4 linked regions of the Homo sapiens genome follow. The protein of the gene in region 1 interacts with the protein of each later gene in a biochemical or structural test. Each region holds a gene or a part of one and is shown on either strand. Other genes may lie near its edges.

The links.
Region 2: the proteins of OR8G1 (region 1) and FRMPD1 interact in a test that uses a peptide from one of them, tested with the Homo sapiens proteins (one large-scale study listed by IntAct).
Region 3: the proteins of OR8G1 (region 1) and SIPA1L2 interact in a test that uses a peptide from one of them, tested with the Homo sapiens proteins (one large-scale study listed by IntAct).
Region 4: the proteins of OR8G1 (region 1) and HTRA3 interact in a test that uses a peptide from one of them, tested with the Homo sapiens proteins (one large-scale study listed by IntAct).

The regions. Positions count from the first base shown.
Region 1 is NC_000011.10:124,251,095-124,254,864, reverse strand, and holds the end of OR8G1 (olfactory receptor 8G1), read right to left. Parts: 3' UTR 501-3,770; downstream 1-500. UniProt on the Homo sapiens protein: Odorant receptor.
Region 2 is NC_000009.12:37,741,454-37,744,953, reverse strand, and holds part of FRMPD1 (FERM and PDZ domain-containing protein 1), read right to left. Parts: intron 566-3,500; coding exon 1-565. UniProt on the Homo sapiens protein: Stabilizes membrane-bound GPSM1, and thereby promotes its interaction with GNAI1.
Region 3 is NC_000001.11:232,620,134-232,623,633, reverse strand, and holds part of SIPA1L2 (signal-induced proliferation-associated 1-like protein 2), read left to right. Parts: intron 1-3,500.
Region 4 is NC_000004.12:8,283,254-8,286,753, forward strand, and holds part of HTRA3 (serine protease HTRA3 isoform 1 precursor), read left to right. Parts: intron 1-3,307; coding exon 3,308-3,500. UniProt on the Homo sapiens protein: Serine protease that cleaves beta-casein/CSN2 as well as several extracellular matrix (ECM) proteoglycans such as decorin/DCN, biglycan/BGN and fibronectin/FN1.

The DNA of each region.
Region 1 (3,770 bases):
ATTCTAGAAAATGAATGCACTGTAAGACATGGAAGTTTTTATTTTCATTGACCTCTACTAACTGTATTAAATATCGTAATGTACTCATAAAACACCAATGCTTGGATAATTTTAGTTTGAGGGCTAAATGAAAGCTTCTGGTAGATGTTGGTGTAAACACAAGAGGTGTTCCTAGGGAACTGCACAAAGGAGAAATGATAAGGTTTTCTTCTAAAAATAAAAATGTTGAGGAACAAAAGAAACACATGCACTGTACAGGTTATTTTAGTTCCATATATAGACTAATTAACTTGTTTGGAAATAAAGATTATTAAACTTTTTACTCAAAATATTTATTAGTATTATATCATTTTGAGATAATAATTTACAATAGATTTTCTTAATCAAATTTGCTTTGAAAGAAAATATTTGCAAACCATACATCTCACAAGCGATTGATATCCTACATATATAAGAAATGCAAACATCTCAATGGTAAGAAAACAAACAGATTTAAAAATAGGCAAAGCATCTAAATAGACATTTCTCAAAAGAAGACATAAAAATGGTCAACAGGTATATGAAAAAGTGTTCAAAATTACAAATCATCAAATTGCAGAGAAACTACAGTGAGATATCACCTCATACTTGTTAGGATAGTTACTATCAAAAAGAGAACGGATAACTGTTGGAGAGGATGTGGAGGAAAGTGAACCATTACATGCTGTTTATGGGAATGTAAATTAGTACAGTCATTATGGAAAACAGCATAAAGCTTCCTCAAAAAATTAAAAATTGAACTACCATATGACCTAGCAATACCACTATCGGGTATATATTCAAAAAATACAATCAGCACGTCAAAGAAATATCTGCACTCCCATGTTTATTGTAGCATTATTCACAATAGCCAAGATATAGATTAACCTAGGTGTCCATCGCTTAGGAAGAATGGATAAACAAAATGTGGTATATGTGCACAATGGAATAATATTTAGATTTAAAAATTTGCAACAATACAGATGAACCTGTAGGACATTATATTACATGAAATAAGCCAGGCACAGAAAGACAAATACTACATGATCTCACATACATGTGGAATCTAAAAATGCTGAACTCACAGAGGTAGACAGTAGAATTGTGTTTATCTGCAGCTGGGCGTGTGGGAGGAGATGTTGGTCAAAGGATATAATATTTTAATTAGATAGAAGGAATAAGTTAAAAACTATTGTATAAATGGTAACTATAGTAATAAAAATCTATTGGATTAGTGTTCTCACCACACACACACAAATAAATATGTTAGGTAATATATATGTTAACTAGCTCAATTTAGGCATTTCGCTATACACACACACACACATTCAAAATAACTTGTACACAATAATATATACAATATTTTTTGACCATTAAAAGTTGTCAAAGTTTTTGTTTGTTTGTTCATTGGTGGTGGTGGTAGTTTGGGGGACAATCTCTCTCTGTCGCCCAGGCTGACGTACAGTGGCACAATCAAGGCTCACTGCAGCCCCAACTTCCTGGACCCAAGCAATACTCCTGCCTCAGCCTCCCAAGTAGCTGGAACTTCAGGCACACACCACCATGCCCAGCTAATTTTTGTATTTTCTGCAGAAATGAGGTTTCTCCTTGTTGCCCAGGCTGGTCTCAAACTCCTGAACAGAAGTGATTCACCCACCTCAGCTCCCCAAAGTGCTGGGACTACAGGCATGAGCCACTGCACTCAGCAAACATAAATAGTTTTCTAACGGACTTTAAATTATTGTTTTATCTTCATTTAAGCTGTTAATTTTTTAGTAATGTTTACAAATTTGAGTCAAAATGCGAAGAAGGAAAAGCTAATATTGGAGTATGTTATTGAAAAGCTGGTATGAGCAATGGTGGTTCAATTTTACCAGCACTTCCTCAGAAGTGCATATGATGTTTCCCAAGATGGCTGTCCTGTGTGACAGGATGATGTGGCATTACACACAATTTTCACTGTTACTGGGTAAAGGTGACCCCAAGAGCAAGAATTCTTTGAGCTGACTGTACATAAGCCAAATGAGCATCTGAAATTGTGGAGAAGTTTCCAGAGTGAAAGTGCAAAGCACTTGCTGGAAATTTGAAGTGTAACACCTTCAATGCAAGTTAACTCTCAGCTTGCACACAGCTAATAAATGTGCCTCAAGTCTGCTGAAATGAGAAACAGGAGGTAGTCTGAAAGAATGTGGCATGAGAAACCAAGGGTGTTTGGTATAATCATTAATAAATATTTGAGTGTGTATTCTCTACTCGAGCTTATAGTCCATTGAAGCAAGGGAAATGTACAGAGTAGACGTTCAAATGATCATAAAATTACCACAAGCAATGCAAGCTAAGAAGAAAAAGAGATAGTTTTTCTGAAAGAGAACATAAGGATGATATGGAAAAGTAATGCAGATTGAGTTTCAGAGATGAGTTTTCTGAGGAAATAACTTTAAGTCCCCTTAGCTTTTAGAAATATATTTTTTTCTAAGTCGGATCCTGGCAATTTTTTCACTAGTTATACTTAGATACACTAGTAATAGCAAATAAGTAATAAGTAAATAAGCTTAAAGAAATCATTTAACTTGGCTCCACATGGAAGAAATAGATTAACAGTTGAATCTTCCCAGACTCAGGTTAATAGAGTCCATGATTGATTGAGAATTTTCTCAGGCAAGAAGATCCAAATCTACTTGGTATGCTCAATTTTATACATGCCATGTTTTTAGAGTTCCCGGGAAATAGTCCTATTAACCTATGGCTCATTCACCTACACTCCCTTCAACTAAAAGGATGGACAAACTATAGTTTCGATATCCAGGAGCCTGTGATTAAATATATATAAACAGAGTAAGCTGCATTACCTGGAATCTGATCAAAGCAACTTAACCAGCCCCATCCAAATATAGACAAGTGAAATATTTCTTCTGGTTATAGAAACATAGCTTATTGTATTTGATCACGTAGCACCCTCACTTTCATTTTAAAGCAATTTTATTGAAGTATATTTTATATATCATAAAATTCACTAAATATCTACATAGCAAGGAATTTTCTCATTACCAGCACAGGTAAAATTATGTTCTGCTCTAGGCATAGAGAATTAAGGGTAGTTTAGACCATGCTATTCAGGTTCCAACTCTATCACCAGATTTGCTATGTTTACCCATCAGGCATCAAACATATTTTTTAACCTTCCTGTGCCACATGTTTGAAAAGAAAGAAAAAATAAGTATTGCTTTAGGGACTCCTTGGTTGTTGAGAGGGTTTAATGACTTAAAAAATCAGGTGTTAACAAGTTATCATATCTGCATTGGGATTTTTCACAGAACAAATACACATACATCTTAGCATAGAATAGGTCAGAATGTTACCAGTTATATTATAGATTCTTGAAGAACCTTCTAAAGTAAATTTTAATCAACTTGAAATATAAATTAAATTAGATTAGATTTAAAAACATATGTAGCTCTTCGAGAGATAAATAGATAAAGTAAGTATGACATACATATGGCTTTCCTATACTTAGCTTAAATGAGGAAATAATAAAAAAGCTTTCAAGGACCTAAGGTGGCAAGAACTATGATAGACGCTGGAGACGTGGCAATAAACCACATGTACGGGGGAATCTTCATGAAGACTGAAGTCCAGTGTAGGTTGAAGGCAAGTACAAACTAGAATAGGAAAATGCAAAGCAGATGATATATTGGATTGCACAATTATAACACATACACGGATATGTAACTTATATTCTGAAATTTTGATTA
Region 2 (3,500 bases), on another chromosome or scaffold:
GGGTTAGAACAGTGAGGAGTGCTTGCTGAGGAGCTGGCAGCAGGGACAACACCAGAATTCTCTTTATTGTTGGGGTCAATCCGGAAGCGAATGGCAGAAATAGAAGACACTCGAGAGTCGATGACTGATTTGGTTTCCATGGTCTCGGGCTCCATCTCCATGACCCTGGAGGCTGGGTTTGTGCTCTTGGTCTCCCTCAGAGGAGCCAGCAGCCCCAAGGCCTTGGTCTCCAGAAGGCCAGGCTCACCCTGCATGTCCTGCAGAGAGGACACAGTTGGGGAGGGTGCACCAAGGGCCAGGTAGGGCTCCCTGTCATAGTAGCACACGTCGTCTACACTCTCCAGGGAGGCTGATGGCACCAGGGGAAATGAGACCTGAGAGGTGTAGTCGGTCTGTAGGAAAGACCTTCTTTTCCTCAGGGTCTTGGCATATTTCTTCACCCCTCCCCTCCTGCTTGGCTGTCTTCCATCTGGCCCACAAGGCAGGCTGTTCTCAGGGCTAGAAGTGCTGGCCTTATTCTGCAAGCTTGTGGCACTGGGTTCTGCAGTAGAAACATCTCTGGGCCCTGGGAGTCAGGAAAGAAAAAATACATTAAAAAGCACAAAAAAAAGAGGTTAATAGAGCTTGGGCTCAGGCCTTGGGCTTTCCTGGGTTTAAATTCTGGCTAGGCTGTGTAACCTTGAGCAAGTTCAATCCTGATCTCCTCAACTTCCTCATCTGAAAGATGGGGATAATAATTGTGACAGATTTTTTTTTATTTTTTTGAGACGGAGTCTCTTTCTGTCACCCAGGCTGGAGTGCAGTGGCGTGATCTCGGCTCACTGCAACCTCTGCCTCCCAGGTTCAAGCAATTCTCCTGCCTCATCCCCCCGGAGTAGCTGAGATTACAGGCATCTGCCACCATGCCCAGCTAATTTTTGTATTTTTAGTAGAGATGGGGTTTCACCATATTGGTCAGGGTGGTCTCGAACTCCTGACCTCAAATGATCCGCCTACCTAGGCCTGGGATTACAGGCATGAGCCACCGCGCCTGGCCGACTTTTTTTTTTCTTTTTTTTTGAGACAGGGTCTCACTCTGTCCCCCAGGCTATAGTGCAGTGGTGTGACGGCTCACAGCAGCCTTGAACTCCTGAGTTCAAGCAATCCTCCCACCTCAGCCTCCCAAGGTGCTTGGATTATAGGATTGAGCCACTGCACCCAGCTGTGATAGACATTATTAAATTTTTGGATGCCTAAGATCCATTTAATTATCTTTTGGTCACAGCATCTCAACTTCTGTTTAGGGAATGACATCTCCCCAATGGTTAGAGTCTGCTGGAACTGTTCACGAAGATGCTCTGTCCACGCCAGCCAATCAGCTACAAATTCTCCAGAATTCCAAACCCAAAGACATTAAAAAAAAAAAAAAAAAAAAAAAAAAAAAAAAAAAAAAAGCAGAGCCATTCTTTCCAACCACAATAGCTTGATAATACAGGTAGGGAATCCTGTGACTAGACTCTTAGCCTGGTTGCTGTCTATTTCTGAACCCAGGTCTTCAGGCTTGCCAGCAATTCTATAAACAATCTTACTTCCTAACACTTTTTCTTTGTGCTGATGTTAACCCAAGTCTTTTAGTGCCAATGGTGCCATTCAGTGCTGCCGTGCAGGTTAAAGGAATTAGTGCATTTTTATAAAGCACCCAGCACAAGGCCTCTGCCTCATTAGGTATTCACTAAAAGGAAGCTGCTCGTTATTGCCATTTCATGTCTGAATGTAAAGGGGCCACAACTCTGTCACAGGCATCGAGTTTTGTGCATCCCAGGATGGATCTTTCTGGGAGGAGAGGCACTATTGTAAAGAACCCTTGGGAATCAGCCAGAAGGAATTAGGATCAGAGCCTAGCACTTGAGAATCAGAGAGCTTGGGTAGTCAGACCAGTCATTTCTAACCTGGCTGTATGCTATTAGAAACCTTATCAAGTCCTAGGCTGCTCCCCACAATCTCTGAGGAGTCAGAATCTCTGAGGCTAGGGCCTAGGGATCTATAAGGTTTAGGTTTTTTTGTTTTTTGTTTTTTGAGACAGAATCTTGCTCTGTTGGCCAGGCTAGAGTTCAGTGGTGCAATCTCGGCTCACTGCAGCCTCTGCCTCCCAGGTTCCAGTGATTCTCCTACCTCAGCCTCCTGGGTAGCTGGGATTACAGGTGCACGCCACCATGCCTGGCTAATTTTTGTACTTTTAGTAAAGATGGGGTTTTGCCATGTTGGCCAGGCTAGTCTCAAACTCCCAACCTCAGGTGATCTGCCTGCTTCTGCCTCCCAAAGTGCTGGGATTACAAGTGTGAACCACTGCGCCCGGCCAAATCTATAGTTTTTAAACAAGGTCCCTCAGGTGATTCTGATGCCCAGTCACATTTGACTGCCCTAGGCTACTGACAGCCACCGACCAAGGAGTTTCTAAGTCCCAAAGACAAAGAGGCTCCAATAGTCAGTCAGGGGCCAAATCAGAACCCAGGCTGAGGAATCCTAGTTCTGGCTCTTTTCTCAGCACTACACTGGCTCCCTATAAAAAACAAAAACAAAAACAAAACAGTGTCTGGTATGAACCCCATATGTTCCTGACTAGACTCCCATAAAAGGGCCCTGACTGATGGTTTCTGCCACACTTCCATCCTGCCCCCCGGCACAATGGCTGGCCCTGCAGGGCAAGGCTGGGGCATGGAAAGTGGTTGTCTGGGTACTTTGGGGAGCAGTAAGGAGTCTGGCCATGGTTTCTCCTTTCCTTAGAGGTACAGTCAATTGAACTCAGTGTAGATGGTGGAGACTTCATTCATTCATTTAACAACAATTGCTAGACGCTGTGTGCTGGGGACACAGTGAGAAACACACAGTTCTAACGCTCAAAGGAGTTCTCGGTCTAGTGATGGAGAGAAACATCAACACAGAATCATACAAGTAAATATGTAATTTACAGGCTGTGCGAGGTGCCAGACAGGGAGAGCCCCAGGTAATGCAAGAACATGTGACAGAGATGGGGAGACTTGCCCTGGCCTGGGAAGCCTGGGAAATGTTCTCTGAGGAAGTGAATTCCAACCGGAATCTGATAGACGGATGGGCACCATCAGCCACGATCTGGGGAGGAGTGTTTCGGTCAGAAAGAGCAGCATGTGCAAAGGCTGGAGGAGGGGGAAAAAACAGGCACTTGTAGAAAGTGGCAAGGAGGTCTGTATGGCAGGAATGCAGGAGGAGGGAGAGAGACAGGCAGAGGCCATGTCACAGAGGGCCTCAAAGGGCCTGATGGGGCTCCCAGAGGAGCTGGCCTTTCTCTCCAGAACAGTGGGAGAGCACAGGAGGTCTGGGAATAGAGGATCAGAGAGCAGCAGGAAAGTGCCGAGACAGGAACAAGGGCTGCAGCTCTCCCAGCTCCTGGCAGGTCACCTTCAACATCCATGTGCTCTTTTCCAATATGTTTCCTTCAGAATGCAGTGTGTGTGTGTGTGTGTGTGTGTGTGTGTGTGTGTGTG
Region 3 (3,500 bases), on another chromosome or scaffold:
TTTTGTTTTGTTTTGTTTTGTTTTTTGAGACAGAGTCTCGCACTGTCACCCAGGCTGGAGTGCAGTGGTGCGATCTTGGCTCACTGCAAGCTCTGCCTCCTGGGTTGCTGCCATTCTCCTGCCTCAGCCTCCCAAGAAGCTGGGACTACAGGTGCCTGCCACCATGCCTAGCTAATTTTTTTTTGTATTTTTAGTAGAGACGGAGTTTCACCATGTTAGCCAGGATGGTCTCGATCTCCTGACCTCGTGATCTGCCCGCCTCGGCCTCCCAGAGTGCTGGGATTACAGGCGTGAGCCACTGTGCCTGTTCTGAACTCAGCTGTTTAAGAAGCATCATACTATCACACTCAGACGAAAGCATTCCCAGGATCAGGGTATGTTAAAAGTTCAGATTGACAGCCTAGCTCTGTCTGTATGTGATTGGCCAGAACTGTAGCACACAGCCACCCGTAGTGCAAGGAATGCCTGGCTTCCCAGCCGTTAGTGGGTTGGGAATGAGTGAGGAGAGACAGCAGGGAGCCCTGCTCTTGTATCTCCAGTAACTTCCAGCTAAACGAGCACCATCCACCCCCACCCATCCTCCTGTTCGATTTTAATAATGGAACATAAGCAGCAAACAGGCAGGGACATTTCTGGTTTACTGCTGTATTCCCTGCACTTAGGTGGTTTTTGCCACATAATAGGCTCACAGTAAACAAATATTTGTTAAAGAAATGATTGGGAGTTGTGGGTTGAACGTAAAAGAACTTCCTTTATCTTGGCTTTTGTTGAACTAAATACTGTTGAGCAAGTTCTAATCATTATTTCTATTGTACATGATCTATCTTGAACAACAGTTTATACCTCATTTATGCCTTTCCTGGGTCGTTTGAAATGACCTGTGATTGAACTCTGATATGGAACTGGTAAAAATGTGGAAGTTTCTGAAGAGGGACTGTGTTCCATCTGTTACATCAAGAACTTTATAGCCCCATTCAGAGGGGTGTGGTTCCTGGGAGCCTGGGCACCCTTAGGTGGCCGCCTTTCATGAGAGAGTATGATTCACACCTTTCCCAGGTTTCAAAGTCTCATCTGTGCTGATGCCTGCATAGCCCTATTTGAATCCCATGAGGCTGCAGTTGACTTAAAAGCCCTGGCTGGGGCTTAATCAAGCTTACTGAACAGAAAGGATTTCTGAATTGTGTAGTACTGTCTGTAGTCCTTTAGCTCTCAGTCCATTAGCAGGGTTCATTTCTACAGGAAATCATGATGTTTAAAAACCCCATCAGTATTGTATAGTGCATCTTTTGTTGACTCAGTACATGAGGATATTATTTATGCCTTAAATGTGGTAGGTGCTCAGTAGCCATAGTCTTAATTTTATATGGTAAAAGTCTTTTATCTTTAATATCTTAACGTAGTGCTAGTTCTTATAATATGACATTAGAGGGATGTCATTCTAACTCCTATTTGTTTACATTTGTGTATAAGGTATGCTGTGATAAGTGCTGTAAGCAAGGCATACATGATAGTAGAAGCATCCAATTTATCAACCAATTTTATTTGAGGATCGTTGTAACTCATTTGTTTGGAATAATAGGTCATTTTTCCCATTTAAAATGTTTTAATTTGGGCATAGTGGCTCATGCCTGTAATCCCAGTGCTTTGGGAGGCTGAGGCAAGGATTGCTTGAGCCCAGGAGTTTGAGACTAGCCTGGACTGCAAAGCAAGGCCCCATCTCTACAGAAAATTTTAAAATGAGCCGAGTGTGGTGGTGCACACCTGTCGACCTAGCCACTGGGGAGGCTGAGGAGGGCCGATCCCTTGAGCCCAGGCGTTCGAGGTTACGGTGGGCTGATCGTGCCAGTGGACCCCAACCTGTGTGACAGAGTGAGACCCTGTCACAAAAAAAAAAAAATGTTTTAAATGACAAGAATAAGTGAAGGAGACTAATGTTGATTTATGAAGAGAATAAAGAATTGGGGAGAGATATTCTTAAAGGCGAGTGTAAAATGTTACCGTGCTTGAACTTTCATTTGTGTTCTCTCATGTATACTTAACGAGAACCTTATAAGGCTGGTGGGATTTTTTTCCCTTTTACAGATACAAAAACTAAGGTTTAATGAAAGTGTGGTTTTCTGAATCTGAGTCCTTATGTTTTAAACCCATTTCTCTTGGTTCCAGCTATAGTGTTCTTTATTCTACAGCTCACTTGTAAGGTATGGTAGGTTTCAATAAATCATGATGAAAGGAAAGAATGAAAAGACAGAAAGGAAGAAGGGAGAGAGGGAGGGAACTAAAGAAGGTGTGTGCATATAAGAATGGCGGAATTACCGACTCACTATCACTGAAAGGGGGAAGTGGAGGCTGAGGGTTGGGCTAATGAGCTCATTGTTCTGGTCTAAAAACTGCCCTGTTCTCTCAGCCAGTGAATTGTCTGTTATTAACTAGAAATTTTGTAATTTGTGGTGAGGTAGCAGTTTTACTGATTGAATCAGGTTATATATTCTTTGTTGGGAAGTGAGTGGGTCCTTCTGTGATCATGCAGAGAACATTTTTTTTAGCCCGAGTCTTTGCCAAGATTAAAAGAAATATAAGAGGAAAACAATTTTTGTTTTGCATTTATATTTTGCTAGATTTGCATAATCTTTGTTTAAGCCAGTTGAATGTGAATCCCTAAATACATTTCAGGCATTTAAATATTTAAAAGGATTCATCCACAGTACTTTACTCACCCAAAGAATAAGTGCTTACAACAAAGAAAATAACACCCTTGCAGATGTAGCCTATGTAGACTTTGTTCACCTTGTCATTGAATTATACAACATTAATAGAGAAGCTAGAATTTGAACATTCACTGAAATGCTTAGCTGGCTCTGTTCCAAAATATTGTTTCCCTGGTAGAGAAAGCAGGACAATTTGTTTAAAACTGGCAGTTTGCCAGTCAGAATAGCTCTGACGCAATCATTGCAGTAACTACTTTGCTCTGACTGCTAATTTTAGGGCAGTTAAATCTGGGTGATGTCTGATGGCTGCTGTCGCTGTGCGTCTGGTTATGTGAAGCTTTCTAAATTCATCCTCTTAGCTTGGCACCGTAACTTAGTTCTTTCTGAGATAAGCTGTGGAGCAGAGGGGATGTTGAGTCGGCACAGGATATGTGCATGGAATGAGGAACAAGGCCCTAGGAGAGTTTCAAGAGACACTGCTTTCATCTTACTACGCTCTTTGTTATTCCAATAGCAAAGGCTTAGCACATCTGTACTTCCCTTGCTGTAGCACCCTGGGAGGTGTTGAGGAAGGTGGAGAGAAGTGTACATCGAGACACCTACCTTCATGGAACAGGGTTCTGGCAATATGCACTTGCTTTCCTTGTCATCCCTGCAAGCATTAGTGTGTTTAAAAGTGAACTTTTATCTTCTTCCTTTTTGGAACAGGTAAAACTACGGAGAAAAATGGTAATTTAAAAAAATCTGGCCGGGCGTGGTGGCTCATGCCCATAATCCCAGCACTTTGGGAGGCTG
Region 4 (3,500 bases), on another chromosome or scaffold:
ATGTCCCAGCCCCGTAGAGGAAGTGGTGTGTACCGTGTGGCTTCACCCCCGAGCAAGGCCTCTCCTTGCAGATGCACAGGCAAAGCCTCCTCCCCTTCTTCCCACAGGGCCTGCCCCGGTCCCTGCCACCATCCCCAGCCTCTCCTACTTCCCCCATCACAGAGACCCTCTGAGCTGGTTTGGGGGAGCCCTGCCTTCAGAACCTCCCGCTGTGCAAGCTGCCCAATGTCTGATCGCTCACACCGAATCCTGAGGGCTCATCCCAGATTGACTTATATCCCGCAGAAGCAGACTGAATGACTCTTCTGAAGTTTAGAGTGTTTCTCCCATCCACCTTTGCTGGCCCTTTGGTCCCTGGGTGTGCACAGAGCCGGCAAACAGCCTGATGAGGAGGCCCCGGAACCAAGCCTCATTCCACCCTGATAGGGATCAGACGGCGGGTCCAGGCGGACACGGAGCCGGCAATGAGCAGTCACCAGAGGCCGCAGGCCAGGGCTCCAGGGACTTGCTTGTTTTCACGGTACTTTCCCTGAGGCCTCCAGCCTCCCTGTGACGAGGCTCCACTGCCCTAGGCCCGGCCCTGGGGACTGAGCATCTGGTGGCTCATGGGGAGATCCCAGGAGTGATTCCTGCTCCAGCACCGCCTCCCTGCTGGCTGGCTCGGCGCTTGTCTGGTCCAAGCCCCTGTCACTAGGCGTCACGGCCCCTCTGCCCTCCCCATCCCGGGCTCTCCAGCAGAGGTCGTGCTCCTTGAACAGGGGTGTGAGAGCGCGTGACGGGCATATAGCACCTCAGCATCACATCCTCCACACCTGCTGGGAGCTCCCTGGGCTGTGGGCTGTGTAGCCCATGTTTCTCAAAACAGCCCTGGAGGCACCACCCATGCAGGACCCACAGCCCTGGTTGCCACCCTGTCCGGTGCCCCGTGCTGATGGACCTCTCACTGCCCCCTTGGCAGCACACTGACCCCTCACTGCCCTTCCCTCGAGCCCCGGGCCCTGAGACATGTCATTGAGGAAATTATAACTGGATGCACTAAGTGGCACGTTGCTGGCCTTCCAGGAGGTAGGGATGGGGGCAGCATCTTTCTGGAAGGCCCCAGCCACCAGGCTCTGAACCAACTAATTACTGACTCCAGCCCGGCTGGGAGGCCGTTTCTGCCCTCAGAGCCTCCAGTGACTGATGCTCTGAGTGGGTGGGTGAGACCCAGCAAAGATGAGACAGATGCTTTTCCAGCACAGGCCTCCCGGCTGTGACCCCTGACCTGAGGTCTGAGTGTGGGCATGGAGGCCAGTGGGCAGCCGCGGGCATTTTCTGCAGACCCCGCAGGTGCCTGGCCCTGTGAGGCACCCTGGGGCTTCCGCAGGCAAAACAGGTGCAGTTCCTACTCTGGGGCACACACGGAGTGGGTGTGGCAGAAGCTGGCTGCGGATGTGAGTGGACAGATGCTGGGGTCACCGTGTGGGGTGGCCAAGTGGCCAGATGCCCAGGCTGCCTGGGGCAGACCCCTGCTTTGCCCTTTGCCTGCCCGCCTGACCTAGGCAAGTAGTTCAGCGTCTCGGGACTCAGTTTTCCCACCATAAAGACCTGAGAGTTAGGGACGACAGTAGTTTCTTGTGGCTGCCATAACAAAGTACCACAGACTGCATGGCTTAAAATGACAGAGATGTTTGCTCCCATGGTTCTGGAGGCTGGAAGTCCTAATCAAGGTGTCAAGGTCCTAATCAAGCAGGGCTGCTTTCTTCTGGGGGATGTTGGGGGAGTGTCCCAGGCCCCTCTACTGGCTCTAGTGTTTTCCGCAGTCCTTGGTACGCCTCGGCCCTTAGACCCCTCTCTCTGCTCTGTCTCCATCATCTCATGGCCTTCCCCTCTGTGAGACTGGACTTCCCTCCCTTAAAGACAACACAGACACACTCTGATGTCACCGTAACTTCAGGACACCTGCAAAGACCCTGTTTCCAAATAAAGTCACATTCACAGTCACATGGGGTTAGGACTTGGCCGTATCTCTTGGCAGGGATACAGCTCACCACAGCACCCCCCTTGCAGGGTGCCCATGAGCATTCAATGGCCTGCCTGCCTCAGAGGGAGCACAGGGTGGCATTCGCTGCCATCTCTGGTCCTGTGGGTCACAGCGAAGCTCCTGTACTTTGCAGAGACTGTCACCTCCCTGCACGTGCCAGACGCTCCCATCCCTCCATGCTTTGTCTCTTGCTCTCACCTGCCTGCACGTGCCAGACGTTTCCATCCCTCCATACTTTGTCCCTCGCACATTTTCCTTGCTCATCTCTACTAAGCAGCCTCAGGGAGTGAGTACCTGCTCTGGGCTGGGCCCCACGCTGGGGTCCCGAAGGTTCCCACCCTGGAGAAGGTCCCAGGCTGTGTCTGGCATTCAGCCTCCTCCCCTGCTGGATGTGGGGCTGTGGTTTCTACTCAGAGAGCTCTGGTGAGAACTGGGGATTGTTGCCCATCGGCAGACACCAATGCAAACCCAGGCCAGCTCCACACCGTTCACAGAGGGCAGGGCCCAGGCTGGCCTCATCTGTGCCTCTGCACCCCTGCCCTCGGGGTGTCCAGGGCTCGGGTCCTGCATCTGCCTGCTGCCAGCACTGCCACATTTGGGGCTTTAGGCAGCTAGCCTGGGGGTGAGGGTAGAGGGAGGTGGGAATAAGCCTTCTCAGCCCTCCCAGCACTCACCCTGTCGGGATGATCAGGAATCTGCCCCAGCCTCTGGGGAGCCTCCCTTCCTGGGTACCTGCTGCAGCCCTGCAGGATGCTGTGTGTGCAATGGGGCTTTTCCCCTAGGGCCAATTATTGTCCTGTTTGTTGAGAGGCGTTTTAGAGCCCAGGCATCACCACTCGGCGGAGGAGGTGTTGTTGTCCCATTTCCCAAATGGGGAGACCAAGGCTCAGAGAGCTTCACTGACCTGCCCACGGTCAGGCAGATAATAAGTGGGTCCTGGACTTGGGATTAGCATCCTGGTCTGTCTGGCTCCGTGCTCCGTAGTCAGGATGGCGAGTGCAAGCTGGGAGTCATCTGACATGTCGCAGGCAGCCTGTCTCATCTCAGCAAATTGCAGCGAGAGGTGATCATCATCACCTCTTTATGGCTGTGAATGGGTGCAGGCGCCGGTGACTTGGCCAGGTCACAGGGCCAGGATTCAAATGGGAGCTTGAGGGACTCCAGACCTGTGTTCTGTCAGCCACACACTGGCTCTGCTCCTCGCTGACCAGCCCCACCACTGCGCCTGACTCCCCCGCGTCCTAGCCCCACCCTAAATGCCCGCCTGTGTCTCCCTGGCTGCAGACACCCGCTGTTTGGCCGCAACGTGCCCCTGTCCAGCGGTTCTGGCTTCATCATGTCAGAGGCCGGCCTGATCATCACCAATGCCCACGTGGTGTCCAGCAACAGTGCTGCCCCGGGCAGGCAGCAGCTCAAGGTGCAGCTACAGAATGGGGACTCCTATGAGGCCACCATCAAAGACATCGACAAGAAGTCG